Regions from separate parts of the Homo sapiens genome. Here regions 1, 2 and 3 are each linked to region 4. Evidence: fine-mapped expression QTL. A gene starts in region 4. Each other region holds a variant in brackets. All regions are shown on one strand. Distances are from middle to middle. Region 1 overlaps DUT-AS1 (DUT antisense RNA 1). Region 2 has its middle 25 kb from the start of DUT-AS1. Region 3 overlaps SLC12A1 (solute carrier family 12 member 1). Region 4 holds the start of CTXN2-AS1 (CTXN2 antisense RNA 1).

Region 1 (8,169 bases), 120 kb after region 4:
AAAAGGAATAACATCAAATAAAAAAACTTCTTTTTAGTTTTAGAAGAATAGATAAAATATAAATATACACATTTACAAATAAGCAAGGGACTTTGGGTTCAACTTTGGGAAAGAATGTCCTTTAAAACTCTAGTATGGTAAATTTTTAATTACAATACACATATCTATTTGTAGTAAAATATAAACCACTCAAATTAACTCAAAAGGAAATAGAATACCTGATAAAATCTAATACTTCAGGATAAAACACGAAGATTGTCAAAGATCTAGCTCAAAAAAGTTTCAACCCAAAGGATTTTTTCTAGGCAACTTCTTTTAAACTTTCAAAGAAAATATAATTACCATTATATTTAAGCTATTGCTGAACAGAACAAGATAAAACATTGTCTTTCCCTTTCTCAGTTATTTTGCAAAACTAGCATAAACTTGATACCAAAATATGACAGACCACAAAAATAGGATACAAGTCAATTTCTTGTATGAATAAACATAGGAAAATCCAAAATAGAATACTAGCAACTCAATTTTACCAATGTATTCAAACAATATTCCACTATAATCAGGAATATGGTATTCTAGGAATACAGATATATCTTATTGCTAGGAAATCAGTTAATTTAATTAATCCAATTTAGTGAGCATTAGTTACCATTTACTTATTCATATTTTTTGAATATTTATTTGTAAATGCATAGTGTACCTCTAGAAGAATGCATAAGAAACCAATTAGGGTTGACTTTGGAGAAGAAAACTGAATGAAGGACAAGTAAGAGATTTCATTTTTACTATATACAATAATAACTACTCAAAAACTAACATTTAAATAATTAAATCCATAAACAAGCTACTTGTCTGCCAGACTGTATTTAATGATTAACTCATGTTTGATCTGACATATATTGTGAAGGTCATATATAATAAATTTCTAACACTCAAAAATATATTATACCATCATTATTGTGTTGTGCTTATTCGTAAAATAAGTGAGCAACTAAAACGTCACTGTAAAAAGAAAAAGTTGACCCCATCACATACCTACTGATAAGCTTAGGTTTTTAGTTTTGTTTTTTTTTTAAACATGAGATCTTTTAAAATATATATATGCCTCTTTCTTGGGTGGAGAAAGTGATAGAGAAATATTGCATCAGATTTACCACTATGGCCCTGCAGACATTATTTAGGTCAGTAGGTTCATATTGCATATTTTACTTTCTGGAACTCAGGAATAGACAAGTATAATCTTGTGCTGTGTTTTGTTTTGTTTTGTTTTGTCTGGAGACAGAGTCTCTGTTGCCCAGGCTGGAGTGCAGTGTCGCAGTCATAGCTCACTGAAGCCTCTGAACTCCTGGGCTCAAGTGATCCTCCCACCTCAGCCTCCCAGGTGGCTGGGACTACAGGTGCAAGCCACCATGCTGAACTATTTTTTCGTTTTATTATTCCTTTTTCTATAGATGGGGTCTCACTCTGTTGCCCAGGCAGGTCACAAATTCCTGCATTTAAGCAGTCCTCCCACCTCAACCTCCCCAAATGCTGGGATTACAGGCAGCAGCCACCATACTCAGCCAAGTATAATCTTAATAGGTTCTGAGTTTTATTTTCTGGGCCAAATAAAACTCAGAATTGATATTATCCATAGTAGGATAGGGTAATTATTATAATGTGACTGAATTGTGTGAATCTATGCATTATGAGTATAGTATGTTCTTTCATCCTTTTAAACACAAAACCCAAGTGGGATGTGTATTAATTTTCTACTGCTGCATAATAAATTATCACAAACTTCATGGTTTAAAACAGTACCCATTTATTATTTCACACTTTCCATGGGTCGAGAGTACAGGCATATCTTTTATTTTATTTTATTTTATTTTATTTATTTTTTGTAGAGACAAGGTCTTGCTATGTTGCCCAGGCTGGTCTAGAACTCCTGGCCTCAAACAATCTTCCTGCCTCGGCCTCCCACAGTGCTGGGATTACAGGTGTGAGCCCTATGGCTGGCCAGACATATCTTAACTGGGTTCTTTGCTCAGGATCTTACTATACTGGAATCAAGATTTTAGCTAGGGCTACAGTCTCCTCTGAGGTTCAGGATCCTCTTCCAAGCTCAAGTGATTGGCAGCTGTATTAATTTTCTTGCTGCTATAGAACTCATGGCAGCTTGCGTCTTTAAGGCCACCAGGGAGAAATCTTTAAACTCTAGACCCTCTGTTAAAGGGCTTACCTGATTAAGTCAGGCCCACTTTAGTCAATCTCCCTTATGATTGAACTTAAAGGCCGGGCATGGTGGCTCACACCTGTAATACTAGCACTTTGGGAGGCAGAGGCTGGTGGATCACCTGAGGTCAGGAGTTAGAGATCAGCCTGGCCAACATGGTAAAATCCCATCTCTACTAAAAATATAAAAATTAGCTGGGTGTGGTGGCCCGTGCCTGTAATCCCAGCTACTTGGGAGGCTGAGGCAAGAGAATTGCTTGAACCCGGGAGGCAGAAGTTGCAGTGAGCCAAGATCGCTCTACTGCACTCCAGCCTGCCCAACGGGAGCAAGATTCCCTCTCAAAAAAAAATAATAATAAAATAAAATAATTTTTAAAAAGATCAAACTTAAAGTCAACAGATTAAGGATTTTAATTATATCTGCAAAAATTTTCATCTTTTCCTTATAAAGTAAGCTAATAATTAGAGGGGCACCCCACCATACTCACAGGTCCCTCCCAGACTCAAGAGGAGGAGATTACACAGGCCATCTTAGAATCCTGCCTTCAATATTGCTATCTCACATTTCTAGAGATCATATATATCAGCTATGAAGAGCCAAGCTGGGAGTTAGATAAGTTAAAAATGGTCCATGAAGTGTCCCCCAAAAAGTTCCACTCTCTGTGCATGCACAATAGATCATATTCATTTGGAGGGATATCTAGAACCATAAAAATAAATTAAACCTGAAAAAGACCTCAGAGATCCTCAAGTACTAAAATGATGTTTCCATACAGAACATTTGCACACAATTCTAGTTACATTGTTTTTCAGTCAACAAAATGTTAAATGAGCAGTAACTAGCCATAAGTGACACCAGGGATAATGCAGCAAAACATGAAAAACTTTTAACAAAGGAAATATAGAGCACAAAATTGCAGCAATCTGAGGTCAAAAACGTGAAAGAGATTCTACACACCCCAGTAGAGCTTGAGGACATCATTACTTTGTAAGAGGACAGACTAATGGCAGAAAAGCTCAATTTTGTTCCATGTATCCTGGTTAAGAAAGCAAGGATACCTGCACTGCAATTCACCCTCAGAAAAATTCTCGTCCACATGGCTGGCATCAAAAGATGGCTAAGCTTCAGTTATCTGGAAAATTAATTTACATAGACAGACTCTTTCTGCAGTTAAGCAGAGTATATGGAGCTCCAGTGTAAGATTTAAACAGTATATTTTCAGGTTAAGTAATTTAAGATGAGGAATGCAGAAAGGAGAACTTCTCAGAGGTTGAGGCCAAGAACCAGGTCATGAATGTCATTGCTTCAGAGAAGGTGACAAGCAATGACAACTGGGATAAGAAGACTAATTTCCTCCTCAGCCTGGGAGACATATTGCAGCAGAGGGTAGTTTGGGACAAAACTCAGCAGTTGACTTTGAGAGAAAGGCATAAGTAACTGCTAAACTGTGAGACTGCTGCAGACCCTGGGGGCTCAAGCCCAACCCTCTGTTGTCATGCAAGCCCCTGTTCTCACACAGCATGGCTTTCCCAGACTTTCAAATCTGGATCATCTGCTCTTTTCGATGCCCAAGAGATGAAGAAAAAGAGACTGACTTCTCTGTTATTATGTACTTGCACTTTCTGATGTTCCTATTGCACTTCTGCCCAACAAAGAGGTGGTAAAATTATTCTCAGGGAAAGTGAGAAGTTCAGAGGAGTAAGAAATAACAGGTATTTAAAGATGTTAGGCCAAGCACGGTGGCTCACATCTGTAATCCCAGCACTTTGGGAAGCCGAGGCAGGAGGATAGCTTGAGCTCAGGAGTTCGAGAACAGTCTGGGCAACACAGTGAAACCCTGTCTCTACAAAAAAAAAATAATAATAATAATAACAAACATTAGTCAGGTGTGGTGGTGTATGCCTGTAGTCCCAGCTACTTGGGAGGCTGAGGTGGGAAGGATCACTTGAGCCCTAGAGGCGGAAGTTGCGGTAAGTTGTAATTGCACCACTGCACTCCAGCCTGGGTGACAGAGCAAGACTCTGTCTCAAAAAACAAAAAACAAAAACAAATACAAAAAAAAATATTAAACAACTCCAGCTGCTAACACAACACGCACATTGGAAACAGATC[A/T]CCATACTGTGATTTCCTAATGCTCAAAGATACATTTACAAAATGAATTCTACTAAAAAAAAGTATTATTTGTGCACTTTTGACTTAATGTGTCCAAAAGTGAGCTCTTACTCTTCCTTCCCAAAGGTGCTCTTTAACACTCTTCCTTCATCTCCATGCATGACAATGCTATCCTTGCCATGAATCTTCGAGTCATCTTTGACTCTCACACGCACATCTGATTTATCAGCAAATCCTATTGGCTTCAGAATATATCCAGAATCTACTCACTTGTCACCATCTCCACTTCTGCCTCTCTGACCCATGTTGCCACTGGACCATTTCTCACCTGGATCACTGCAGGAGCCTTCTCAAGGGTCTTTCCACATCAGGCCTAGCTCCTCCTCTGCCTCATTTCAACATCTTCTCAAAGGTCTTTCCACATCAGGCCTTACTCCTCCTCTTCCTCATAGCAACCCAAGCAATCCTGCCAAGTAAACTAGAGATTGTCATTCCTGTTACCAAAATCTTCTAATGGCTTCCCATTTCAGTCCATGGAAAAGCCACTGTCCTTACAAGAGCTTACAAGGCCCTACCCCTGCACCCCATCCACCTATTTCTGCGACTTCAACACCTACAACTGTGTACGCCTTCCTCTGTCACTGTTCAGACCACACTGGCCTTCTTACAGGTGAGTTTGCACCCTGGGACCTTAGTGCCTGCTGTGTCCTCTGCCTGGAATGCCCTTCCCCAAGATATCACTTCCTTCAAGTTAGGTAAAACAACCCCCAGCCCCCAGCCCCACAATCAGCAAATAGCATGTTCTCACTGAGGCCTTCCCTGGCTTCCCTCTCTGAAATCAGAAGTCTAAATCCCATACCTCCCTCCCTGCTTTACTTTTCTCCTTAACTCTCGGCACTACTCATTTGAATCACATCTTCTATCTGTTGTCAGACTTATTTTGTCTGTTCTGTTCCCTGCCATATCCTCAAAGTCTAGACCAGTGCCTGGCACATGGAACACATTCAACAGATATTTGTTGGAACGATGAATTAATACAGGGCACTGAGGGGACATGGCAAGTATGAAACTCCTTTGGGGTCTGGTCTCTGACTCACTATGAAGCCGCATTCTGCCCTGCTCAGGGCCCTTCCACACCAGCTATGCCCTGACGCACCACACACTCTGTACTCTCCAGAGCTCTGAATATGCTTATCCTGCTGCCTGGGATTTCTGACTCTCTCTCTCTCTCTTTTTTTTTTTTTTTTTTTTTTTGAGATGGAGTCTCGCTCTGTCACCCAGGCTGGAGTGCAGTGGCATGTCTCAACCCACTGCAACTTTTGCCTCTCAGGTTCAAGCGATTCTCATGCATCAGCCTTTCAAGTAGCTGGGATTACAGGCATGCGCCACTATGCCCGGCTAATTTTTGTATTTTTAGCAGAGATGGAGTTTCACCATGTTGGCCAGGCTGTCTTGAACTAATCTCAAATTATCTGCCCACCTTGGCCTCCCAAAGTGCTAAGATTACAGGCATGAGCCACCGCACCCAGCCTCACTCTTTTTTTTATGTTTTTGAGACGGAGTCTCACGCTGTTGCCCAGGCTGGAGTGCAATGGTGCGATCTCGGCTCGCTGCAACCTCGCACTCCCGTTCAAACGATTCTCCTGCCTCAACCTCCAGCGTAGCTGGGATTACAGGCACCGCCACCACGCCAAGCTAATTTTTTAATTTTTAGTAGAGACAGGGTTTCACCATGTTGGTCAGGATGGTCTCAATCTCCTGACCTTGTGATCTGCCCACCTCAGCCTCCCAAACTGCTGGGATTATAGGCGTGAGCCACCTCGCCCAGCCTCTTTTTTCAATCACTGTTATTTTTATCCTTATTTAGTTCACTACTATACTCACTTTCTCTTGAGTTGATTGGCCATCTGGTGTCAGTTCTTTTGTCAATTGATTCAACAAAAATGTGTCAGGCTGTAAAGACACAAAGATACACTGTTCTGAGCTCTTAAGATATTGGCATCCACATTCCCTGCCCTCAAAAAGTTAAAGGTTTAGACAGACAAGAAAACAAGTTACACATAATAATTACAAATTGTGAAAAATACTGTGAAGGAAATAAAGAGAAAGTGTTGAGACAGGATAACTCTGTTGACCTTGATGCCCTTTGTGGGCGGGAACTGGAGAGGCTCCTTTCACTCAGCCCACTGTCGGCCACTCCTCCCAAAAGAGAGCCTGCGAGCAAGCGAGTGCAGCAACCGGAGACAACACTGGAACTGGCCCATTACTCCTCTCTGGCAGGAGCACGCTCTGTGCAGGCCCTATAGCAGCATCCAAGCCCCTGCCCTCTCCGTACCCGGGCATCCAGGAAGAATCAGGCCACAAGAACGAATAGAAGGGTGGTTGGTGTATGCGGAGGATTTTACTGGGTGATATAAGTGGCTCTCAGCAGGATAAGGAATTGGAAAGGGGATGGGTGTGGGAAGAAGGTGATCTTTCCCTGAAGCCACACTGTCTGAAGTTAGCCACATCTATCCATAGTCTTGATGCTCAGCAGCTTGTACCCCCACCGCTCCGCTGCTTGTGTTGCTCTGCCAGTTGAAGTCTTTTTATGTCAACAGGATAGGGGCGTGGCAGGCCAAAAAAGTAACATTTGGGTGGAAAAACAGGGTCAGCTATTTTCACTTAGGGCTGTGGTTCCAGGCTTAAGGGTGGGGTGGGGAGGGGGTTTAGCCAGGAGCCCAGCTGTTCTGTATCAGTGTGACAGAGAATAATGGAAATAGTAATACTTTATTAGGGTACTCAGTGAGGATGTCTATGAAAAACACATAAGGATAAGAAGGTGCTGACAGTGTTGAACTTTACCGGAGCCCTGTGCTCCTGGAACACAGCAATCGTTAAGAAGTCTCCCCAGCTTTCTGTGTTCTAGAAATGGCTAACTGAAATCAACCACCATTCCCTATATGACTTAGACAAGACACTGCCAACTCTTTCTCATGATTCCTACAAGACTGTAGATGATTCCTTTGTTTACCTGTGACAAGGTCAAACCCAGACTTTTCCCCTTTAAACTGAGCCTGCACATAAGGTCAGACAGACACCTTCTAACTTTATTCTTTGTCTCATGGATGATTAGCTGAGATAAGTTTTGTCCTCATGAAACTAACTAGACACAGAAATAAACAATCCCAACTTTAAATTTACTCCACCTATAACTTGTCTACTCTTCCCTATAAAAATCTAAGACAAGGCCAGGTGTGGGGACTCACACCTGTAATCCCAGCACTTTGGGAGGCCAAGGTGGGCAGATCACTTGAGGTCAGGGGTTTGAGACCATCCTGGCCAACATGGTGAAACCCAGCCTCTACTAAAAATACAAAAAAATAAGCCGGGCATGGTGGCGGGTGCCTATAATCCTAGCTACTCAGGGGGCTGAGGCAGGAGAATTGCTTGAACCCAGGAGGCAGAGGTTACAGTGAGCTGAGATCACACCACTGCACTCCAGCCTGAGTGGCAGAGTAAGACTCTGTCTCAAAAAAACAAACAAACAGAAAAAATCTAAAACAAAACTATCCTGCTAGATACACTGTAGTAGGCTGAACACGGCCCCTGAAGATATCCAGGTCCTAATCCCTGAAATCTGTGAATTTTACCTTACATGGAAAAAGGGCTTTTGCAAATGTGATTAAGGATCTTGAGATGAGGCAATCATCCTGGATTATCTGGCTAAGTCCTAAATAAAAGCACAAGTATTTTTTTAAATTTAAATTTTATTTTACTTTATTTTATTTTAAATTCTGGGATACATGTACAGGATGTGCAGGTTTGTTACATAAGTAAACACATGCCATGATGGTTTACTG
Region 2 (8,169 bases), 160 kb after region 4:
ATACTTTTGTTAAATTTGTATTGCATTTACTGCTTTAACAAATACTTTTAATATTGAAAATATATGGGAACATTATAAATTACAAATTTTGAAGTAAAAAATGAGCCTGATCTAATGAAAAAAATAGTAACTTTGGGAGTTTTACATCTGAGTTTAAGCTCTGTTCTTTTACTAACTAAAATATCTTCAATAAATAAAGTAAACTTCCAGATCCTCAATTTTTATCATAAAATAAAGAGAGTCGGTCGGATAATCTCGGTAGTCTTCTCCCCCTCTCCCGTTTTACGAATCTTGAATAAGACCAGACTGTACAGCCGTGGCAAATTACTGCCACCTGGTGGCAGTTATCTAAGGTGAGCTAGCTGTATTTAAGGGATAGAATCACCATCATTCATGCATACTTGTGTTTGCCTAGCATCTATGTGCCAGGCAAGTGTCAGCATTATTGTTTATCCAATTTAGTGTTTTTCTAGATGATGTAGGTGAAACAACCAAGACATAAGCTGTGACATGCTAGCTGTGTGACCTTAAGGACATCATCTAACCTCTTGAGTCTGCCTTTCCATCTGAAAAATAAAGTTAATAATATCCACCTTACATTATTAGAAGACCTAGAGATGATAGGTGTAAAGTATCTTACACAGTCCATGGCAAAAGTATTTAGTCAATAAATGGTAGTAGTTATCCTTAGGAAGGTTACCATCTGTAGCAGGGGAAATAAGACAAATATAGGCATCTGTGCAAATATAGGTAGTGTGACATATATGATGTGCATGAAAATACAAAGAGGGCATGAGGTATATTCAAGAAATGGCAAAACCAAAGTTCCAATGGACTGGAGTATAAAGGACATGTAGGGAATTGTTGGTAACTCTTCTGGAATGGTAGGTTGCAGATCTGCTCTAGAGGGTCCTAAACGTCAAGGAGGCAATGGCCAGTCACAGAAGAGTTTTGGACTAAGAATAATATCACTAGAGCTGAGCTTCAGCAATACTGATATTAATCAAATGTCTGACAATGAGGTTAAGAAGCCAGGTAATGAGCACAGAGGATGGCAAAAGAAAGGTGGGTGGAGACCGAGCGTGGTGGCTCACATCTGTAATCAAAGCACCTCGGGAGACTGAGGTGGGCAAATTGCTTGTGCCCAGGAGTTCAAGACCAGCCTAAGCAACATAGCGAAACCTAGTCTCTAAAAAAATTAGCCAGGCATGATGGCTCACACTTGTAGTCCCAGCTACTCGGGAGGCTGAGAGATGGGAAGATCACTTAAGCCCAGGAAGTTGAGGATGCAGACCTTTGGTAATTACCCCAGGCAACGAGGCTGTTTTACAATGCGGCATAATCATGCCACTGCACTCCAGCCTGGGCAACAAAGTGAGACTCTGTCTCAAAAAAAAAAAAAAAAAAGAAAAAAAAGAAAAGAAAAGAAAGAAAGATGGAAGCCAGGTGCAGTGACTCACGCCTGTAATCCCAGCACTTTGGGAGGCAGAGGCGGGTGGATCACAAGGTCAGGAGATCGAGACCATCCTGGCCAACATGGCGAAACCCCGTCTCTACTAAAAATATAAAAATTAGCTGAGCGTGGTGGCGCATGCCTGTAATCCCAGCTACTTAGGAGGCTGAGGCAGGAGAATCGCTTGAACCAGGGAGTCGGAGCTTGCAGTGAGCCAAGATCACGCCACTGCACTCCACCCTGGCGACAGAGTGAGACTCCGTCTCAAAAAAGAAAGAAAGAAAGAAAGATGGGTAGGAATGACACTGAAAAACTGCAGAACTGCAATTGTGAGTGAATCTTTACAAATGAACTACCTGAGACAAAGGGAAACTAAGAAGTATTTGGTGTCAGGACACCAACCAGCCATAGCAGTTGTAGGACTAAACTCCAGGGTTCCTGGCCTGGGTCTAAAACCCTTTCCCCATCCATGAAAGGCATTAGCCCAAATTTCTACTGAGGTCTGAACCAAATATGAGTTTGGCCTTCGAATCACACATTGTTCAATACATAGGATAGTAACTCTTTGTGACTATTTTCTAATGTGCCATGGGCTAGAGAGGAAATACGACAAAATACTTTTCTACAAGGTCATTCACTTTGAGTATCAGAAAGAACATTCTACTTAGAATAAAATAAAATCCCAAGTGTGCCCATTTTAAAATCCCTGTGGGATTTATAATGGCTTAACTTTTAGTTGAGAAGAAATTTTTTTTTTTTCTGGCATCTTAGAGAAGCAGACAGAGAAGCAGAGGTGATGCTTTGACAAATAGTAGCATAGATCAGGATAAATGACAGGAAGCTCTCATAAAATATACTTCGATGAGAGCAAAGGCAAATAATGATATAATGCCCTGCAGCTACATGTTTGAAATGGAAATGTTTGGAATGAGGATGTTAGGGAAAATAATATTAGAAAAAGACTAATGCTGTATGAGGTTCCTGTCAGATGAGGAGTGTAGGATAATTGTGTAATAGTGAAATAATATGGTTTAGAAAAAAGAAGGTGCTGTTGACTGAGACTGTTTGATTATCATAGAAGAGATGAAACACTTTTTCATAGTCAGAAAAATCAATATACAGCCCAAGAAGAGAAGTCGTTTGATGATAAGGCAATAAAAACTTCAAAGGGCAAGTTAAAAATGTTTCCTAATTCATTTCAGCCTAAACTGATCCCTGCGCCCGTCTCACACTGTCCGCCAGCTCTTTTGCTGAAGTATGTTACCCTTTCTCCTTGGAATCATTACCCGGTCTCCTTGGAATGGAAACTGTGTCAGACTCCAGGGGTGAGTGGGAGGGAAAATGGTGCTCGCAGAAAGAGAGGAAGTGTTTTTTCAATTTAGAGCTAGAAGTAAGTGCTGACATTGTCTCATGTGTGTTTGGGGACAATGGCACAGGCCAGCGGTAACACATCCACTTTTCTGTGTCCCTTGCTCAGATGTGTTTGGCATGAGGCTGCAAAAGCCACGGCTACTTTATCGCACCCCAAATCTCTGAATCTCTGTTCTCCCTCCTGGGAATGTGAAATATGGACAACATGCAGTTTCTACCTTGTATTGTTAACATAATTATCCAGATGAATTCTCTTATTATTTCCCCACACATATTTTGAAACAAAAAATCCTTTCCCTTACGAAACTTCACTTCCTTTCTTCAGACGCACACCTTCTGTGGGGTTTGAACATTAACCTCAGCTGACTTCAGAGCTGCACTAAGCAAAGCCTGTGTTTTCTAGGCCAAAGTAGACAAAGTGAAGTGAAAGGAGCTGTTGCCAGTTGATGCTGACGAAGGTAGAAGAGAGGCTGGGTACTCACGCTAGGTTCCACCCCCTGCACCGCCCTCTCCCCCAGTACAGCTCATCTGGGAGTTCAGATTCCTCAGCCTTCTAGGTCACCTCTGATGAGCAGGGGCTGTGAGAACTGCTTAGCCTTTTGGCTACTGTAGTGTGGTTGGGAGAGAAAATACGTATTAATATTATTACTTAAAGATAGTTTTATTTGTGTCTATATTGAACATCTCTTGTTTAGAAGGCAAAATAATCATCTGCCTGCCACATTTTACTTCGTAGGCATAGAGTATCAC[C/CT]TTTTTTTTTTTTTTTTGAGACAGAGTCTTGCTCTGTTGCCCAGGCTGGAGTGCAGTGGCACGATTTCGGTTCACTGCAACTTCTGCTTCCTGGGTTCAAGAGATTCTCCTGCCTCAGCCTCCTGAGTAGTTGAGATTACAGGTGTCCGCCACCATGCCTGGCTAATTTTTGTATTTTTAGTAGAGGCGGGGTTTCACCATGTTGGCGAGACTGGTCTCAAATCCCTGGCCTCAAGTGATCCACCCGCCTCGGCCTCCCAAGTGCTGGGATTACAGGCGTGAGCCACCGCGCCCAGCCAGAGTATCATCTTTTAAACTGCTTTGTTCTAATATAATTATCTGTGTCCAAATTTTAGAATTGATTTTCATAACTTAAATTAGAATACAAATAATAAAAGGAAGAGAGCTAACATTTTTTAAGTGCTATATACACCAGGTGCTATTCTAGTTGTGTTCCTTTTACCTGAATGAGGTATTGTAAACCTAGGGGCAGAATTTACTCTTAGGGTGAAAACTGGTCTCTTTATTTTTAGGGAGTCAGCAAGCCATTCTGATGGGCTACTCAAATGTTAGAGTAGGATCTCAGAGCTCAAGGGCTTGTTTGGGCAGGCTGAGAAGGAGAGGCAGAGAGATGTGAGGGACTCAGGAGTTGGTGGCAGGGGTGGTTAGCAGGGGGCAGGAACGCCAAAATATGGTAGGAGGCTAATCAGAGAAAGGACCAGTGAGAAATTTCCTGCATCAAGGAGTGCCAAGACACTTCTTCTAAATTTATATTATGGAAATTTCTAGCATATACAAAAGCAGAATGAGAAGTATAATGAACCCCGTGTAATCATCACTCAGCTTTAACAATGATCCTCTCATAGCTGATTTTGTTTCTTCCGTATCCCTACCTACTTGCCCACTCCCAACCCCCAGTGAATTATTTTGAAACAAATCCCAGACATTGTATCACTTCACAGATTACATTTTAATCTGTTTTCCGAGCTATCTGTACGGTAGCTCCCCTCTTATTACCCAAACTTCAGTCAAATCCACTCCTTTAGTGTCAGTGGGACTTTAGAGGGGGACTAAAAGCAAAAGAGTTTGCATCTGGGCCAAAATGGGTGAAGAAAAAGTAGTGAGAAGCCTGATGCGCAGCCGAGATTAAGAATAAGCAGAGCTCCTGAGAATCCTTGAAAAGATTGGAGGTGAAGGGATGCTAGTTCTTCCATAGAAGTCAGATGGGAGTTTTATATAGTAGTGTGTGTGTCTGTGTGTGTGTGTGTGTGTGTGTGTGTGTGTGTGCTGTTATTAAAATGAAGAGTGACTCTGGAAGACTGGAAGACTTGGGGACAGCCAGACAGCTGGCCTTTGGGTTACAGTTGCATTTTCCAAGTTTCCTTTCCTTGCAAGGAAAGAAAATACTAAATTTAAACACCATCTTTCAATTTCTCAGTCAATAATTTCCTTTTCTGTCTCTTTCACAAATGCAGTTTCAAGACATCAATGCAAGGCATTTATTTTCTACGGCGCCTTTCAGAAACATGAAATCACTGAAGGAGCGTTGTTAAGCAATTCCAATCCCAATTAGGTTTGCAGCTGATGTCTACGTAGCCTTGTTTAAGTTACTATTCTTTAACAACTTGTGGTGTAACTAGCAAAAATTGTAAAAAGTGGACCTAGATTCTTGCAAAATTACCCTGTAGCGTTCTCAAGGTGGGGGAAAGAAAAATATGGACAACAATTGAACTAAATTTAATTTTATCAAGTTAATAATGCCTTTAAGATTATAGATAGGCCAGGCGCAGTGGCTCACGCCTATAATCCCAGCACTTTGGGAGGCCGAGGCAGGTGGATCACCTGAGATCAAGAGTTCAAGACCAGCCTGGCTAACATGGTGAAACCACATCTCTGCTAAAAATACAAAAAAATTAGCCAGGCATGGTGGCGGGCGCCTGTAATTCCAGCTACTTGGGAAGCTGAGGCAGGAGAATCACTTGAACCAGGGAGGCGGAGGTTGCAATAAGCTGAGATTGCGCTATTGCACTCCAGCCTGGGCAACAAGAGCAAAACTCCGTCTCAAAAAGCAAAACAAAACAAAAGATGATAGATAAACAGAGGAATTTGGGATTTGAAATGTCATCTTCTCTTAAGATGCATCTAGACAGTTGATAATTGCCCAAATAAGTTTAATATGGGATAGACTGCGAACTTTTTTTGCATGCAGATAGCATGAGTTATAGCTATTTCCTTATTTATATTCTAATAGAAAAAGAATTTTTCTTTGAGAAAAGAAAATGGCAACTTTACTATCTTTATCAGATGCGTTTCTGTCTTAAAAAAAGACCGAGGCTGTATGTGGGAAACAAAAATTATAACCAACATTAAGACAATATGTTGTTGAAAATACTGCTATCTAGAGGCCTTAGGAAATAGTATCTAGCAACCACTAGATGTCACTTGATGTTTGCTTTTTTGTAAAAGGTAGTTTTTTTGTTTTGTTTTTGTTTTTTCATAGTTTATCTGCAATTATAAGTCTACAATTCTCAATGGGTCCAAGCTGGCAGAAAACAAAATGCTGCAATATTTGAGTGAAAGCAGGCAAAAGTCATTAGATGAGAACAATGATTTTAACTTTAAATAAGATTTGGGTGGTTGCAGGGTTTGTATAATCTCTCCTGGCATTTGTAAGGACCAGAGAAGCCAGCAGCTTTGCCCTCCTGCTGTGTTTAAACAAAAATGGAAAATTGTAATGAACAGCTAGATTTTTCCTATCTTTCATTTTTTTCTTCCTCCTCCTTCCCCATTTTTAGGAGAATGTGACTTTTAAAATGATTGCCCTTTAATGAGGTTACTTGCAGCATTTTAAGATCAATCCTTCTTTGTTCAAATTTCTACCCACAAATCAAAACTGTTTTAATCTTCATTATCTCAGTAAAGCGCATGTGACAAAAGTAAATGGAGAAGACGTCTAGAAATGTTGTGAGGGTTCTCTGGGGTTATCCACTTCCTGTATTTGCTAAAACTCTAATAATCAGTTCCAGTAGAGACCATGTATCCTGGGGTTTTGTTTTGTGTAACAGCTATTTGTTTATTTTTTTTAACTGTCATTGTATTTTGGCTTCATGATGGTTAAATGAGTCTCCGTATTAAGTAAACCTCTCTGACCCTGCCTATTTCCTGTCTTGTCAAACCTTTCCTTGTAAGAATAACAGTGTTCTTTTATTTGGTAGTGTGCAGCATGATGTTTTTGGCATGGCCAACATTTTTGACTTGCAAAAATTTGTGACCTCAAGTGTGAGAGAAGTGAATGCTTTTTTCGGTACCTCATGGGGTCTCAATCTTAAAAAGTATCTTACGAAAGAATTATCAGCATGTTTATTTCCCAAACATCACAAATAAACAAATAGAAATAGCTTTTTTTAATAAGCTACTAAAAATATTAAACCAATGAATACTTGGTGAACATTTTGCTGCTACTAAACTTACATAATTTCTCAAACTGGCCTAGCTATATGAAGACACAGAGCTTTTATCATGTTCTGTCTAGTAATTCATATTTTTGAAAACATATTTTCAAACCAAAACACATTGTATGTGAGTGGAGTATGGCTATTCCAAGTCACAGAATGGAAGAAATATCTTTGTTGCCTCATCCTTATATACCTAGGTCTATTTAGTTCTGAAATGGATTCTATAAGATAAGAACCATCAAAATCAAAAGTCTCAATCAAATGCACCTCCTTTTTTTAAGGTAGCTAGCCATTTGCTAGCATTTTTCTCTTATCTTTTGGTTTATTTTTCAATAATGTGGACATTATGAGAATAAAATCATGGTAAACATCTCTTGCATTTAAAGATTGACAACTGCTAAATATTAATTTTGAAATATTGATAACTAATTAGAATCTGAAGAAAATAGATTGTGTTGATTTGAAGGTGTCATGAATAAATTCTTATAATCACATAGCAGTAGTTCTGAAAGTCTTGGCTAACAAAAATCTAAATATCTGCAGCAAATGGAATTTGATAAAAGTACCACCAACTAGTAGTTTTTTGTTTTTTATCATTGGCTAGAAATATAGTTCTAATAAAGAGCCTGTGATGTATAGGCAGTAACAAAGAAAAAGCTGAGGACTAAAAAGATACATTCATCATTCTAGTATGGAATATTTTTTCTCAAAATGTCTGAAACACAGAACTATAAGCTTAATTTAAGATTTTCAGCCTGAGCAACATGGTGAAAACCCATCTCTACCAAAAATTAGCTGGGCATGATGGTGCATGCCTGTAGCCTATAGTCCCAGCCATTCAGGAGGTTGAGGTGGGAGGATCAATTGAGCCTAGGAGTTCGAGGCTGCAGTGCACCGAGATCACACCATTGCACTCCAACTTGGGTGACAGAATGAGATCCTGTCTCAAAAAAAAATATTTTTTCTTAGACCTGTCATTCAAACTTCCTTTAATTATTCATTGTCATTAAGTATTTCTTTTTCAGAGCCAAATCCAAGGAGACTTAAATTGTATTATCAAGATTTATTTCATTTATACCACACACATATAACACATATACTTTCCTATACTATAGTTTTCAAAACACTATTGTGTTGTCT
Region 3 (8,169 bases), 74 kb after region 4:
TGGGCTTTTGAGAATAACAGTCAAGTTTCAAATCATTATTTTGCCACCTATTAGCCGTGAGTCCCTTAGGCACATAATTTCATCTCTCTGTGCCTTAATTTTCTCAGTTGTAAAATGAAAATAATGAAAATAGCACCTATGTTATAGAGTTGCTATTTGAATTATAGAAGATAAGCTTTCTAATGCTGAGTATGGTGTCCCTCAAAGAGTAAATGCTCAATTAACTTTCATTGTTATTGTGATATTGTTATTGTCAATATCATTATTTTTGGTATGCTATAGTTGCCATTTTTATTCCAGAAATATATTACCTTCAATAAAAACCTAAAGCATGCCTTCTTAGAAAAATGAGGTCCAGACACTGGATTTTGAACTTTTTAAGTGTGCAGCAGTTTGATCATGATGTAACAGTGAGATATGTGCTTCCACCCACTAATCACAAGACAGCAGGCTCTGGGCTCCATCCTTCTGGTGGCCTGCAGCTATTGAAGTACTTGCTTTAAGTGCTGTTACATTACCAGAAAGGAGCAAGACGTAGAACTCATTGGCATTTTGATGTGGGTGGGTAGAGGGAAAATGTGTGGCCACAGCTGTCATTTCCTGCAACTGCAGCATGGTAAATCATTATTTGATTTGAAATTAATTTCAAATAATCATTATTTGAAATTAAGAGAGCTGTACTCTTTGCTGGGCCCCAAGCACCCGCTGTGGCCTTCCAACTATCCAGCTAACTCTTAACACTCTCCGCAGGCCTCTTCCTCTCTCTTGCTTTTTTACTATTCAGCTTAAAGATTTCAAGTGAGCAACTCTTCATCAGGGTAAATTTGGGGACCCATTCTAAAGAATCCAGCTCAGTAATTTAAAAAATACTGTCTATTCTTCTCTTTTGAACTAACAAAATAAATAAATGACATATTTCTATCCCAATAGGCTTTATATTAAATATGTGGGTCATTTGTTCTTTTGTACCTATCATTTTTATCACCATAGGAAGACAGAGGGAGGAAAACTCCACCTTGTAGCATCCCCCTCATATTTCTAAGCATAGCCAAGTTCAACAGGTTCAGCAAAAGGTAAGTTATTAGTTAAAAGTTGCAAGTTGCATCCTCCACCAGTTTTACCCTATGTATCCTGACACATATAAGCACTGCCTTTGTCAATGAGTTTCCTCACTTATGTCATTCATAGTAGATGCAGAGATATCCAAACCAATCATCCCAGATAACTTAATTTGAATTTATGTACCTGTAATTCTCTGGGCACACTATGTTCAGTTCTAGAAGTCTTATGGGATCAGTTGACACTTACCTTTCCCAGGTGCAAAGGCATCATACTGCAGCAGTTCCTTATTCATATACTTCTCAATTTTACATTTAAAAATAGGAATTTTTTTATTAAAATGAATAAACAGATATACATTTAAGGATCAAAAGTTAATTGAATTGAAAGTCGATTCCATTGACCTGGGATTTGGAACACAAATCAGATAAAGTCATTATTGTCCAAAAACACGCCACTTACCTCTTTTCTCAATTTTGCTTGTCTTACCTTGCAAAAGGCTTTCAGGTTTACAGTGGCATCTTTTATCAAGTACATTATGTTGTGCTGGTGGCTGAAGAAATAAGAATTTTTTAAAAAGATTGATTCTGTTTTTAAATTTTGAAACACTAAAAAAATTAATTAGGTTGAATCATATAAAATTTGCATTTTTATAGATCAAAATCGTTTGATACTGGCAGTTTCATATGGCTCACTATATAAAATTAAATGAGACCTTTAATTTATATTCTACTTTTCCTAATTAATGACTGTTAACATTTTGGGCCAGATGCAGTGAGTCCCTGCCTAAAAAAAGAAAAAAAATTGGTTATAGAAGCTTCTACTCACTTTATTTTTATTTATTTATTTATTTATTTATTTGAGACAGAGTCTCCCTCTGTCACTTAAGCTGGAGTACAATGGCGCAATCATAGCTCACTGCAGCCTTGAGCTCCCAGGCTCAAGCAATCCTCCCACCTCAGCCTTCCCAGTGTCCGGGACTACAGGCATGTGCCACCACACCCAGCTAATTTTTGTATTTTTTGTAGAGACAGGGTTTTGCCATGTTGCCCAGGCTGGTCTCCAACTCCTGGGCTCAAGCGATTTGCCCTCCTCGACCTCCCAAAGTCCATTATAGGTATGAGCCATTGCACTCGGCCCTCCACTCACTTTTTAAATGAAATAAGCCATTACAGATCAAGTTAAAGCCCCTTTTAATACCACTCCAGACCCCTGGTTCTCTCTGTTCCCAGAGGCAATGTTATCTGAATTTTATGGGTATTCTTCTCATCATTTCACACACGGATACCAAAATGTAAATCTATTTTCATTCATGTTTTTCTTATTCATTAATGTTACTTTAAACCTGATTGTCCTCTCCTGTAAAGGAGGAAAGGGATGGACTTTGACCGGCTCTTAGACTTTTACCCTGTTTCTTTTTCTCGTTTTTTTTCTAAAAAATTATAAAATATCTTAAGAAAACCTAAGGCTCTCTTTGAATTCTCTGTTTGAGGAGTTCTCAATAAATCTCACAGAAGACACCTACCTCTTAACTCTTGAACTGCATAAGGAAGGCAGTTCAAGCCCTTATAACCCAGGGAAAACTAAATTCTCATTTCTTCTTCTATCTTTCAGCCTCCTCTTAATCTCAAATTTCACATCCACCAAGGAAAAAATGTATTCTTTCTAGATGCATCTTATTTTTTTTATCAGTGAGCCTCTGTTATGATGTTAATAAAATAGTGACATGACCAAATATTGAAAGAATGAAATGACCTATGAATGGGCACTAGCATGTATGGTAAGATAATATGGACCAAATCAGAAAGGGAAAAATTTTCTTTCCCACAATTCCAACCAAAGCATCCATGAAAACAAAGACAGACTAATAAGACTTTCAATGTTAAAAAAAAGAAAAAAGTTGGAAGGAATACTGCACTTGGTGAATTCCTCTGTTTGATCCGAATGGGGTTGGAACCCCTTTACAAACTCTTTTTCATGATAGTCACGTATTTAAAGTAACATCACATCAACTTCTCCACACTACATAATTAGAAATGCTTTACCCCTTTCTCAATTAATATCAAAGTTATAATATATACAAGATTTTTAAAGCTTCTTTGTTTGAATCCTGAATTAATTTATATACTCATATTTTGGATCCCAACTGAAGCTAATCTCTATAATATTATAATGGGGTAGTAAAATTCATTTTTGTAACTATGGCATATTTGAATGTTGAATAATTGTATTCCAGTATGTCTTTTCTCTTTGCTAGTTTGCTTTATTCTTACCACATTTGTATTGCAGCCTTCCTTGCTTCACATTAATAAGTGTGCTACAATGATGTTATAATCGTTTTTAGCAAAGAGAGATTCTGCATGAAACATTTTTATGACTTCTCAATATGGCAAGTTTAGGCATTAAAGTAAATCTCTCTGTCACAATTAATGTTTAATCTGGATTTTTATAATACTAACAGACATACATTAGACTGTGTTTATTTAAATAAATGCCATTCTCCCCAGGGGTTCACAGTCACTGTGGTACAACTCACTACACTGATGGTTCAAAGTATTTCCTGTTTGTTATTCTTCTATCTAATGGCTGCTGTAACCACTGAACTTCCTTGAATAAAATATTCTTTCTTTTTTTTGCAGTTGATGAAGTTTAGAATGCTCAAAGAAGGACTAGTGATTCAAAATGCATTGACAATCTGGAAACCTGAGCTAAATTGATCCATAATGGCATATCTTTCCTTAGACTAGGTCATCTAGTTTAGTAACTACCCTGCCAATCTCTCTATCTTTTCTATCTTCATGGAAGTTTCTTGTTTTTAAATTTTCCTTTAATGGGAAGTCAACCAAACTGTTTTGAAAAGTTGGCAGGTTCTAGGAAATATGCTGGAAAAAATAAGAATATAAAGAGTCTGATCCAATTTAAATAGAATATTAAAATGGAAGGGACCCCAGAGATTGAATGTTGTGTAATAGAAATATATTATGTGCCATATATGTAATTTAAAATTTTCTAGTAGCCAATTAAAAAGGAAAAAGAAATAGGTAAAGTTATTTTTAATAATATTGTATTAACCCAGTGTGTCCAAAATATTGTAATTTCAATATAGAATCAATACAGAAACATTAATGAGATATTTTACATTCTTTTTTGTAGTAGGACTTTGAAATCCAGTGTGTAGTTTATGCATCCAGCATATCTCAATGTGAACCAGCCACATTTCAAATGTTCAATAGCAGCATGGACATACAGGCTATCATATTGGGCAGTGATGACCTAGGCAATTGCCTGAGTTTTATCAATGTAGAACATACCTCAAGAGAGGACAAATGGCAGACCCAGGGTGTCAGCCAGTCAGTGCCAGATCTCAACCCAACATTCTGACTCACAGTTCAGTGTTCCTGCAAGCACAGTGGTAAAATCACATCCGGGGCTTTGATGACATTGCACTAGGTACTTTATTATTACTACTTAAAGCAACCTTGCACGAGCAAGAGTTTATCCTCATTTTAAGGATAAGATACAAAAGCTCAGAGATAAGGAATTACCTCCTCAGGCTTAGATCTGAGACCTGTTTTGTCTGACCGCAAAGCCTGGG[C/CT]TTTTTTTTTTTTTTCATGCATCCCAATGTCCTTTCTCTCCAATCTAAGACCCTTTAAGACCGTGACTCCAAGTGTGGTCTGTCTAAGGAGCAGCAGCATCTGTTGCCTCCAGGAGCTTGTTAGAAATGCAAAATATTGAGCCCTGCTTCAATACCCACAAGGCTGCATTTTATCAAGATCCCAAGTGATTCATGTAAAATCTAAGCCATCTCAACAAAATACAAATCTCTCTATAAATTAAAAGAATTTCCTGGGAAAATGGATTTGTACCCTGTCAGACATATGGCAGATAATCAGAAATAACTTTTGGATTGAATTACATCATGAGAAGAAAAGAACTAGCTTGGACATTTAAGGAAGGAGAAATAAAAATAGAATTTTTCATTAAAAATGTGTTTCCAGAACTAAATCTTGAAATTATAAAATGCCTTATCAACCATCACAACACCTGTCTTCTTCCCTCTTAATCTCTTCCACTCTTCTTAGGTCATAGGTACGTAAACCTTTGTTCCCACCAAATTCATTGAATGACAAGGAAATGTTAATGTATTTGAATGGAAGTGTGGCAACATTACACAGGGAAAAGTGGTATAAGGGTATTTTTGCCACACGAAAAAGCAACGCATCAGCCAAATAGAATTGACAAGATGTGCAGTTCATGGCAGGATTTGCAGGTCACCATGTTCTACCTCCCATGGAGCTCTGTCCATTTCTTGAAATTAGGCTCCAGCTGAGATTTCTTTCGTGTTCCTGAAAGTGGCTCTCGCTAATGAGTCAAAGGTTGATTGTGTATTTATCCTAAGCCTCTTCAGTCACATTTTCAGTATTTTCCTTGTGTCATGTTGCCCTCAACTCTTCCTTTCATTCAGTGTCAGGCAGTAAATTAAGCAGATGTTAATCAGTCTAGATGTTTTGGGTAGAAAATGAATGGTGTGAATACCGCAGGTCATCTCCAAAAGGCTGAATCTGTGGAACCCTGTTCAGTGAGGTGTTTTTCCCTCTTTCCCATTTCTTAACTCAATGGGGCATTGCTGGCTATTTTTGTCCTTTAGAAAACAACAGCAATGTGATATATAATAGCAGGGTTCTAACCAATATTTCATTGTGTCACACAGGGACCGCGCAAACTGTGTGTTAAGGAGATGAACAGTGGCATGGCGAAAAAACAGGCCTGGCTTATAAAGAACAAAATCAAGGCTTTTTATGCTGCAGTGGCGGCAGACTGTTTCAGGGATGGTGTCCGAAGTCTTCTTCAGGTAAGGCTGCATTGAGGGAATGAGCACAGAGGCAAAAGACAATTAGTGCTCCATGTTAATAAGGCTCCCAAAGTGAACAGCTGTAGTTAGGCAGCCAAGCATCAGAGATCAGTGCAGATGGTTAAGGGATTATTTTGAATTCCTGGGTATAGGCAAAGCTAGAACAAAAGCAGAGAAGTTCTATTACAATGAACTATGAATGATACACTGGAAACGGAAAATGAGGTTGCCTTTGGCCACCAGCATACATTCTGCCCCCGTACTTATTGAAATGCAAATTTGTTCTGGTGGTTGACGACATTCAGGATCCTATTGAAACTTCAAACTATTTTTATATCTCATACTGCATATAGCAATGCTCAAGTCAGGCATTCTTTTCCTTTTTTCTTTTGCAAATGGTGTTAGGGCAGCTGCTAGACCAACTAAATTAATGCATGGTGATCTGGGCATAAAATCTCCCTATCCTCCTGAATTATTTCCAGAATGTTGAATAAAATGTAATAATCTCTACAGCTCAACCTTAAATCCCATAGTTCTCACATCTTTTTTCCCTTATTTTTTCCTTTTTCCTTCATCTCTGCTATAGTAAGTACATAAAATCTTTTCCTAGTTCTGATCGTCATAATTTAGAGTGACAAAGAATCCTTAAAACAATCCAAGAGACCCTCAGAAATTGTAGAGCTTGGCTTTCCGAGCATTTTGGGTTTAATATGGTTGAAAACCCTAATTATATATATATGAAATGGTGCATTTGGCTTTCAGAGTTACTGTATTTCAGAGTGTCAGAAGTCAGAACTGCATCCAGGTAACTCAGATGCGCATGCAGGCAGGAAAGAAAAAATATTGGTTAAGCTTAATTGGTAATATTTTGGAGCTTAAGAGTATTTGATGCAATCCTGTGCCTAATTTCCCTTAAGAACACTTGCGAAGTAGATGCACGTACAGAGAAACAATTTCTGCAAAACCTATTACCCACAATGAGCCTCTTTTCATCTGTTATTAATTTGCTAAACCATGGAAATAGGTGTTATTGCAAGATGCTGATTTTTCTTTCAGTACCAAGTTAGTTTTCAATAGCTCTTTGGTTAAATATGTTGTCACTATTAGTCATTTATTATAAAATTATCATACAAGATTTTAAAATAATATTTTCAACTAGGAATGGGAATATGGACATAAAATAAGAGCAGGGAAAGAAAAGACACAAGTATGAAAAAGAATTATTAGAATCCAGAAGAAATGGTAGAAAATTTGAACATGCATACATTCATATGAATTTCTTCACATAAAAAGTGAAGTACAGGAGAACCATGGCAAAAGGACAAGACATAGCACTATGCAATTCATAGGTGCTTAGTAATATTGTTGAATTAAATTTGATTAACTGGAAGCTGTATGCTGTCATCTAATGAAGGGAAACAACACTTCTGATATGGAAGATGGCTATTAATGATACTGTCACATAAAAGAATTAGGTTTTGGAAACATAATTCAGTCACTCTTCAATAAATAACATAAGTAGAGATTTTAGTGATCCTTGTACATAAGAATTTTCCAAACATGGATTTTATTGCTAATGACATTATGGATATAACAGGTGGAATTGAGCTTTGAACCACTAAGTTACAACATGCATACCAACAGTTAAGCTGACCCTCACTTGATTTTAAATTATTGAACCATTTTAATGACTGTGTCAGAAGAAATGCAAATGACTGCTAATTTAGAAAAGCTACATTTCTGTCATCTAAAATCCATTTATAGCTGGGATGATTTAGAATTAATCTTTCCATTTTATGCTTGGGTACGGGCATGAAGGACATGCACTAAAATGTAATCTAATCTTCAGGATCTTCAGAACATTACTTCAGTGCTCCTTTAGACATTATTTTTCATTTGTGATGGTAGTTTCCCAGTACGGTAAGGATTGCCCACATTTTTATGTCCTCTGTTTAGGCCTCAGGCTTAGGAAGAATGAAACCAAACACTCTGGTGATTGGATATAAGAAAAACTGGAGGAAAGCTCCCTTGACAGAGATTGAGAACTACGTGGGAATCATACAGTAAGTGATGGCTTTCAAGACGTGTTCTTGTTTATAAAGCACTAAGCAGGGCAGTACATAACTTGTACTGCACATAACACTGTTGTGTCAGATTAAATTGCCTGAGAAGAGTACATTCCCCTGGTACTCTGACTTCTTTTCCAAGGTGAAAAAAACACCACCAATAATAGAGTTTGAGGGAATCAGAGTGTCAGA
Region 4 (8,169 bases):
CAACTAGAGCCAAGATGGCAAGAATTTATGCAAGCTAAATTTTCCTCTGAAAAGAATCCTGAGCTCAGTTGTTAGAGGAAATTCTTGTTTTCAGTTTCTTTGTGACAACCTCATTCTAGAATATATTCATTACAGTTGGGCTATCATGCTTTCTAAATTCCTATAGTTACCATGTCTTCTAACAAGGTGGACAATTAACACTTCCAATCTCTGAGATAACAAAAAGTCTTAGTCATATAAGGGACACTATTTAGAGTATAAAAATAGCAATAGGGTAACAAAGTGGTTTGAAATTAAGCTGATCTATAATTATATAAACTGAAAAATTTCTTCGTCATCTTGACATTTTAATATTTCCTCATTATAGTTTAGATTTTTATCTTCATAGCTAATTAGATGATACATTTTCTGTATTTTAGTATCCTATTTAGAATAAATTTATAAAACAACCATATACACTCACCCAATAATCAAAAAGTAGAGAAATTTACTTTATTTATTTATTTACTCCACTTCTGATTTTATGAGGACATTTACATGAGGTCACACATTAAAACAAATAATTAAAAGAAAATAATATTATCATTACCTAAGAAACCAAAATTGCAGTAGTTAAGGTGATTAAAAAAAAAGAAAAGATATAAAAGGCTTAAGGTCTTATGTAGTTATTCATTTTCAGCTGTTAATTTGACTCTGGCATCCCTAGTAGCTAAAATAAATGCTAACTTTAATTAGTTACATGATTTTCATTGTGTGTAAGAACAGAACATACCACTTTACCCTGGGTTGATTTAAGTGAGGTATGAAAGTTCAATTCATTAAACTGGTATTGAAAGAAATGCTTTTGGGGATATATCTATGAAATCTAAATTTCTTGGGCATCTTTATATAAGAAATAGTAAGTTATATGTTGACCAACACTTTAGTAACAGCTCTGTAGTAGATATAGAGCAGGTTGTGTAAGCTGGCTACTGTTTCACATAGAATTACTGTATATAAGCTGAGAGCATAATGTCAAAGCATAGTAAAGGCAATTCTGCTTGAGGAACTTCTAAACAATGTCACCAACATATTTACCTTTCTAATAACTTGGATTGTTCTGAAAATAAATCATAGATGCTCCAGAAGTATAGATTATCCACATGTGCTTTAGAAAGGCATTCATATATTTCATGCCTTTCAGCAATTTTTTTTGTAAAAGTTGGGCAGTAGATATTGGCAAGGACCTGAAGTACAAGTATTCTGTGTTTTATCTTTTTGCAGTTCTTCATCCCTTCTTTGGCAATGGCTAATAAAACATGAATAGCATATTAATCTGTGTTTGTATAGAACTTTGTAGAACTTACCATATTATTTTGCCACGTATCTCCTCGAGGGCAGAGACCAAATCTCATTTATCTTTGTATCTCAGCATCTAGCAAAGAAAGTGGAACCTAATGGATTTTTAATCCATTATGCTTTCCTGAATAAGCCATTTTGCAGGCTTTTGAGAGCATCATTACCTTTCATATAGCTTGAAAAGGGTCAGGGTCATGCACCAACTAATACCAAGGAACCTAATTTATAATCAATGCTTTCCTTTGGCATCAATTCAGAAGCATTAATGGGAAACGCTAGCAACCTTCAAAATGTAAGCATGTGTGTATGATGTCAATGACATAACAAATCAACATTCACACAAATGATCTATGAAACAAGAAGCCTATTCTACCTTTTAAACTAAGTGAGAATTAGAACTGTAATATCCAGATTTTAAAAATCAGCTTTATGGGCATTTACCATGGAGCCATATTTCAAGTCATAAAGTGACAAGTCAAAGTCTCCAACCGTGATAATAAATTATTGGAGTGGTGCTTATACATCCGCAGCAGAATCATGTAACTTAGTTCTGCTCCCTTGAGCTCGGCCTGCAAAGAGAATGAATGGTTATAGATCATAGTATGGAAATACAGACTCAACTATACCACTGGTCCAGACAATGTCAAAATCAAAATCAAAGGAATCAAATTCATAAAAAATTGTTCATACTGTACAGACAAAATGTTTACATGATTAGTCTCTGAACTAATTTTGAATAAATTATTTTTGTAACAGTTTGGAAACATACATAGAATAATAGATGGAATAAAATGATCTCCTTTCCCACAATCTATGACTGACTGCATTGCCAGAATTCAATATCTCTAGCATCTTGCTACTTTATTTTTATTTATTTATTTATTTTGAGACAATGTCTCGCTCTGTCACCCAGGCTGGAGTGCAGTGGCACAATCTCAGCTCACTGCAATGTCCGCCTCCTGAGTTCAAGTGATTCTCCTGCCTCAGTCTCCTGAGTAGCTGGGATTACAGGCACCCACCACCACACCCAGCTAATTTTTGTATTTTTAGTAGAGACAGGGTTTCGCCATGTTGGTCAGGCTGGTCTCAAACTCCTCACCTCAGGTGATCCTCCTACCTCGGCCTCCCAAAGTGCTGGGATTACAGGCATAAGCCACCACTCCTGGCTGCATCTTGCTACTTTAATTGGTCCCAAAACTAGTAATCTCTGGCATCACCTAGGAAATTGTCAGAAAAGCACAATCTGAGACCCAACCCCACACCTACTGAATCAGAGTCTGCATTTTAGCAAGATCGTTGAAGATTCATATGCATGTTATACTTCAAGAAGCACTGTTCCAGCCCAGAGTGCTAATAAAGAATGTGGCCCTTGGCAAGTTTAAAAAGGGTCAATAAAACCATGGCCATGGAAATGTCCCTAGAATAAGATATGTCTTTCAGTCTTTCATAGAGGGCAGTTAGTTCACCTACATTTTAGGACATCTTAATAGTTTAAAATCAAAAAACAACTTTTAAAAAATGTGGTCTTATATGAACTCTCAGTTATACATTGCCCATTTTTTTGTAAGACCATTACATTTCCTAAATCAGTAAATACTCTAAATAATCATGAAGTTTGTCTTCACTTTGTTATTGAATCTAGTTGCAGTTACATTACGTTTTCAAAGTATTTTCTTTAGATGAGTGTCCCAATTCTGTATCTACATTTCCCCCAACGACTCACAGTCCAGTAGTTATAAGGTGAATAATTAAGATTGTAGGGAATCTAAAAGTGCTTGCAACTTGTAGGTTCTGGATAGAGTCGCAAAACATAAATAGAATTGGGAACCCTGTAACTGAGTTTGTTGAAACGGCCAGACCCCTAAAATAAGGATAAAGAGCAAGGTTTCTGTTGTTGTTTTTTTGTTTTCCTTTGCTTTGCTTTGCTTTACCTTGCTTTCAACGTCGGTTAGGTTTAGAATCTACATATTCAACACTGTTTAGAAAACGTACCTGGCAGCTATCTAGAGCTTTATCAGAGCGTTTCCTGGCTGCTATTTTGTTGTCTTCTAGCTTGTGTTGGGGAGACAGGTCTCACCACGCACCATTTCAGCACTACGGACAGCGCCTAGGCGCCTTCTCCTAGAAACGGAAGGGGATTCAGTTGTGTTTGTGTGGAAGAGAGAAGGGAAAGAGTAGAGGAAAAGAACTCCAAACGACACATTCAGTCTCCAGTTAAATCAATACACCTTTCACTCCTGAATTTTCCTTACCGGATAAGAAGAAACGTGTAAGAATTTAGTGCCTACTGTTCTACTGAAAACGGCTGTCACCAAAGCACAGCAAAATGCCCGCAGCACAGCCAGGAATGCAGCAAAGAGAGCAAAACAAGGATTTCAGCAGTAAATCAATTAAACCCTCACTGCCTTAGTAAACAAAGATAATGATGAAATCTAATTGCTAACCTTCAGGGTGTGTCGTGAGAAAAAAAAGGAGTGTCTATTTTTTTCTTCCTCTCTTCCTCTTTCTTTTAGCAGAACTGAAGAATAGAGCCTGTTGCTGCTGGAGCTGATTCCCTTCCCCTCCTCATCTCCCACCTCCTTTCAGTCTCACATACACACACAGATGCTGCCACAGACACACGCGAGCGCAAATATTTACACACTGCCACACCGAAGAAATCCATGCACGTTTTCCTGCAAACGCGCGCGCGCACACGTACTTCGGCGGGCGCCCACGTCCTCTGTCTCACCAACAGACACAGACATTTACACTTCTAGGCCAGGAAAGCGCTAACCAGGGCCCTGTGACTCTACGCAGGTTCCAGAACACGCCTTCTACATTTGTTACTGAACCGATCAGCGAACACAGACAAACGTGCCAACACTTAAGTCTACTGGCTGGACTTCATCTCCATGGCAACAAGCATGGAAGGTGAGACATCGCTGTCTGCGAAGTAACTTTCTCCCCCTTCCCTCCGCATTAACTGACAGCGTTCCAAATGCAGGTCCAGATGAGAAGCATGTCCTCATTCTCTTGTATTTCTGAAGCAAAAGAGCGGGGGGTGGGGCGGTGGGTGGAGGAGCCAGTAGGTCTGATAAGTTCAAATTCTAAAGGAGAAACAGCACCCCTAATGCTAGCGCCACTGCTGATGCGGCTGCCAGGCGGGGGAAAAGTGTTGTGTACGTGCAGATTGCTGATGCTTCTCCCATAATGTTTTGTAGGAAGTTTCCATGCTTCTTCGGTTTAGTGCGTAGAAAGAGACCTGGAAACAAACAACGCAGAATGATGATGATGGTCTAGGTTTCTTTAATGAGATATCTGGAGAATTTTCAGACCAGGTTTCCCAGTGCGTTGGAAGGATTGAGTGTCAGAGTCCTTGAGCCATCCAAAGATTCTCTTAAGAGAGAAATTCTCTTAAGGTTGAAATCTGAGGGTTTAGGGGTGGATTCTGGCAGATCCTAAGGTCTGGGATCTCTGGAAAGCCCTGAAATTTATGCATTTCACCATGATGAAGACATCTAGGTTTGTAATTTAAGGTTTTCCTTTTATTCCAACACATTCGATTCTTAATGATTAACTACCTCTGTGCAGATGTGGTTTCAATAATGCTTCTTTTCTCTCTTTTACTGGGATATAATCTTTATATTTTGTGTGGAGTGTGTATATGTATGGAATGGTTCATTATTTTTTAAGCTTGGGTTTTCTTATATGTCTTATTTCATGAAATTATGAATGTCATCATTAGCAGTAGAGATTATTATATCTAATGACCAGTGCTAAAATACTTTCTACCTAGAACATCATATTCCACTCTAATAGTTATTATTTCAGGTTTATTGTTTGGAATACCATTACTAGAGAAATAAACAAGAGGAAAAACCTGTTGATTAAAATAAAACACAGGAGGTTCTTTCTTTAATGGGTACACACTTTTTAACATTAGTTTCTGTAATTGTGCATTGTTGCATGATTAAATGATTTTATCTGAAAGGTATATTTTTATATCTCTAGTAAGGTTATTTCACAGAAGACATAAACATCACTAACAATATTCATGAATATGAAAGGCTGCATATCAGGTATAAAAATACTATCATCTTTGCTTAACTGCTTACGGAGATATGATTTGTAAGTACTGATCATAGGAAGACTTTGTTTTTTACTTACTAGTTGCCAATTACAAAGCAACTTCATGAGATTTGGGCTATTTGATATCTACAGGAACACCCCTGGCCCAATCTTATGACTCATCAGTACTTAGAAATCTTGGTGCCTGACAATTGCCATGAAGGAAATGTACTTTCAACCAAGTTACTCATTGCCAAAGTACCTAACCATTTATTCCAGTGAATATGGCTCAAGACAATATTTTATCATTTGCATCAGTAGTATTAAAAGACACTTAAATATTTTAATCATTATATATATTGATCCTGATATTTAAACTGTGCATTGTTTATTTTACCCAATTTTGTGGTATAATATATTTCAAATAACTTTTACCACTACCCAATTTTACATTCTACTTATTTTTGAAAGTTCATTTTTTCTTAACTATTTTTATATGGATTTTTTAATATATGGTTTTGTAACTTAATCTAAATTTTCTCAGATTTCTTTTTTTTTCTATTTCCCAATAAACAGGATATTAAAATGATGCTTCTCTGGAGCTAGGCATTACAGTGTCTGTTGTGAATAGCTCTTCCAGCTTTTAGAGAAAGTGAAAATGCATATTTTATCTATAACTGTTGAGTATTTTGAACACCTTAGTAATTGTGAATGAATCAGTTTTATAACTGGGGACTTTTGTTTTTAATAATATTTTGTTATTAACAATATTTTCATATCATATTATGCTCTATATCAGTAGAAAAGCAGGACTTGGCACACTTAACAGTATATCCTCAAAAACTTTGGATTTGTTGTTGAAATGAGACAAGTTCTTCATTTCACAGAGCAAGTAAAATGGAAAGTTTGGCCAATTGTTTGAAAAATTTAGGCCTGAAATACTGATATTTCAACTGCTATATATATGGTTTAAATTACTAAAACCATCTATTTGCTGAACACATTGTTAGGCAATTGCTTAACTTTTTACTTCTATTTGCTTGTGTAGGCACAGCCTGCAGCAATGGACAAATTTTTAATCAGCCTTTGAATATTACTTTTTCAGTTGCTCTCCTTGACCTGTATTTTGTTTTCATCTTTAGTATAAAGTATATTTTATGATAAATATAAAAGCCTGTTTTCTCTTTTAAGATATTAATAAAACATTTGTTCTTTCTCAACCCATTTTTTTTTTGTTAAAAATGGAAATTTTACAGTTCTTTGAATCCAGGTAAATTTATGGAGCTCTTCCTTTAAAAACTGAATATGCAGTCATGTCTTCATTATTGAAAGTGATTCATCATATGATTTAACCTTCTGTACCGACTAAGTAAAACTTATTTTCTGTCAAGTTTATTTACCACCTGACTCCATTTTCTCATTACCCCTCACTCCTAAATCCAATTCAATTTAGTGTCCCTCCTAGACTCTCAACTAAATTTTTATAATGATGAAATAATTCTGAATGCCAACCATAAGACCCTGTTTTCCAGTGCTTAGTTTCCATCACCGCTGCAGAATTTGACACTGTTTGCTAATGCCTCATTCTAGAAGCCCTAGCCTCCTTTATTATAGGTGAACTTTCTGCTACAGATTTACTCATGATTCATCTTATATAACTCCACTAGGAGATCCTCCTTGTAGGAGAGGCATTCCTTGGAGTTCCTTGCTAGGCTTCTTCCATCTTTAATCTTTTCTGGTAACAGAAAATAGACTTTAATGGAATTACAGTAAAATTGCTCTCTGGATCAATCTAGAACAAGTCCATCTGGCTTCCTACAAGATAATATTTCAAATATTTGAGTCTACCTATTGTCCTTCTTGGTCTTCCCTTTCCTAGGCAAAACTCAACAATTCTTTTCTTCTCTTTAAGTTTTGATCTGCAAATATTTCTATGTACTGGGCTCTCTCCATCCTGTATAAAGTCTTCTACACAAACGTTATTTGACAACAATACCTTAAAATATTCTCCCCATCAAAAATTTTATGCTAGACAAAATGATCTGGATAAATTTATTGAAAGCTGACAATTGAGTGCCTACTAAGTGCCACACATGAGTACCACAAATTCACCAAGTCCAGAAATAAACTTGTCATTTACTTTTTAAGTCTATGCTTTGCTCTTATTTTCTTTGTTTTGATTAATAAAAACACTATATTTACACTTGTCCGAGCTTAATAGTGTAGAGTCATCTTTGATGCCTCTCTCTCCTTGGGCCCACTACTTTCCAAATCCTATCCCTCCTACTTTTCTAAATATCTTTCCAACCTCTACCCTCTTTCATACATCTACTCCCTAGTGGAGACCCTCATTGCTTCTCACCTGAACCATTTCTTTCCCGTGATGCTCTCTCCCTCAAAATTATGTCTATTTCAGTCTCATCATCAAGCCACTCAGCCTTTAAGCAAATAGATTTCAAACTCTTAGCCTGACAGTCAACATATTTCACAATTTGGCTCCAACCTACCTTTCCAACGCTTTGTTTCCCATACTCCCCCTTGCCTGTACCAAATTGCTCACTGTGCTCTGAAAAAATCCAGTATTTTTCTGCCTTCATATTTATTGTCATGCTTTTTTCTTCTTCACAGATTTGAATCATTCTGTCTCTCAAGACTCAGTTCAAATACAATCTCTTGCAAGAAAAACTTTCCTGATCCCTCAATGGGTGATATCTTGATTTCATCTAAACTTGTTTATCCTTTTTGGATCTTCTTTTTTTTCACCAAGATGTTGAAGATAGT

The links.
Region 1: its variant is fine-mapped to the expression of CTXN2-AS1 in whole blood (TOPMed, PIP above 0.99).
Region 2: its variant is fine-mapped to the expression of CTXN2-AS1 in whole blood (INTERVAL, PIP above 0.99).
Region 3: its variant is fine-mapped to the expression of CTXN2-AS1 in whole blood (INTERVAL, PIP above 0.99).

The regions. Positions count from the first base shown.
Region 1 is chr15:48,308,684-48,316,852 of GRCh38, forward strand. DUT-AS1 (DUT antisense RNA 1) reads right to left here. Exons shown (of 3, transcript NR_186809.1): 2 at 6,212-6,280; 3 at 1,785-4,058. It overlaps LOC124903486 (a long non-coding RNA gene), which reads right to left. Exons shown (of 2, transcript XR_007064625.1): 2 at 8,041-8,169. Among named protein-coding and RNA genes, the nearest start is that of DUT, 19 kb to the right of the region's middle. The variant A/T (reference allele first, on the strand shown) is at 4,328.
Region 2 is chr15:48,352,315-48,360,483 of GRCh38, forward strand. No RefSeq gene overlaps it. Among named protein-coding and RNA genes, the nearest start is that of DUT-AS1, 25 kb to the left of the region's middle. The variant C/CT (reference allele first, on the strand shown) is at 3,575.
Region 3 is chr15:48,261,791-48,269,959 of GRCh38, forward strand. SLC12A1 (solute carrier family 12 member 1) reads left to right here. Exons shown (of 27, transcript NM_000338.3): 18 at 5,771-5,911; 19 at 7,868-7,974. Among named protein-coding and RNA genes, the nearest start is that of SLC12A1, 60 kb to the left of the region's middle. RefSeq lists a silencer at 4,348-4,548. The variant C/CT (reference allele first, on the strand shown) is at 4,655.
Region 4 is chr15:48,187,603-48,195,771 of GRCh38, forward strand. It overlaps CTXN2-AS1 (CTXN2 antisense RNA 1), which reads right to left and starts at 4,107. Exons shown (of 3, transcript NR_184082.1): 1 at 3,983-4,107; 2 at 3,331-3,459; 3 at 478-1,907. It overlaps CTXN2 (cortexin 2), which reads left to right and starts at 4,063. Exons shown (of 2, transcript NM_001145668.2): 1 at 4,063-4,251. RefSeq lists an enhancer at 4,067-4,570.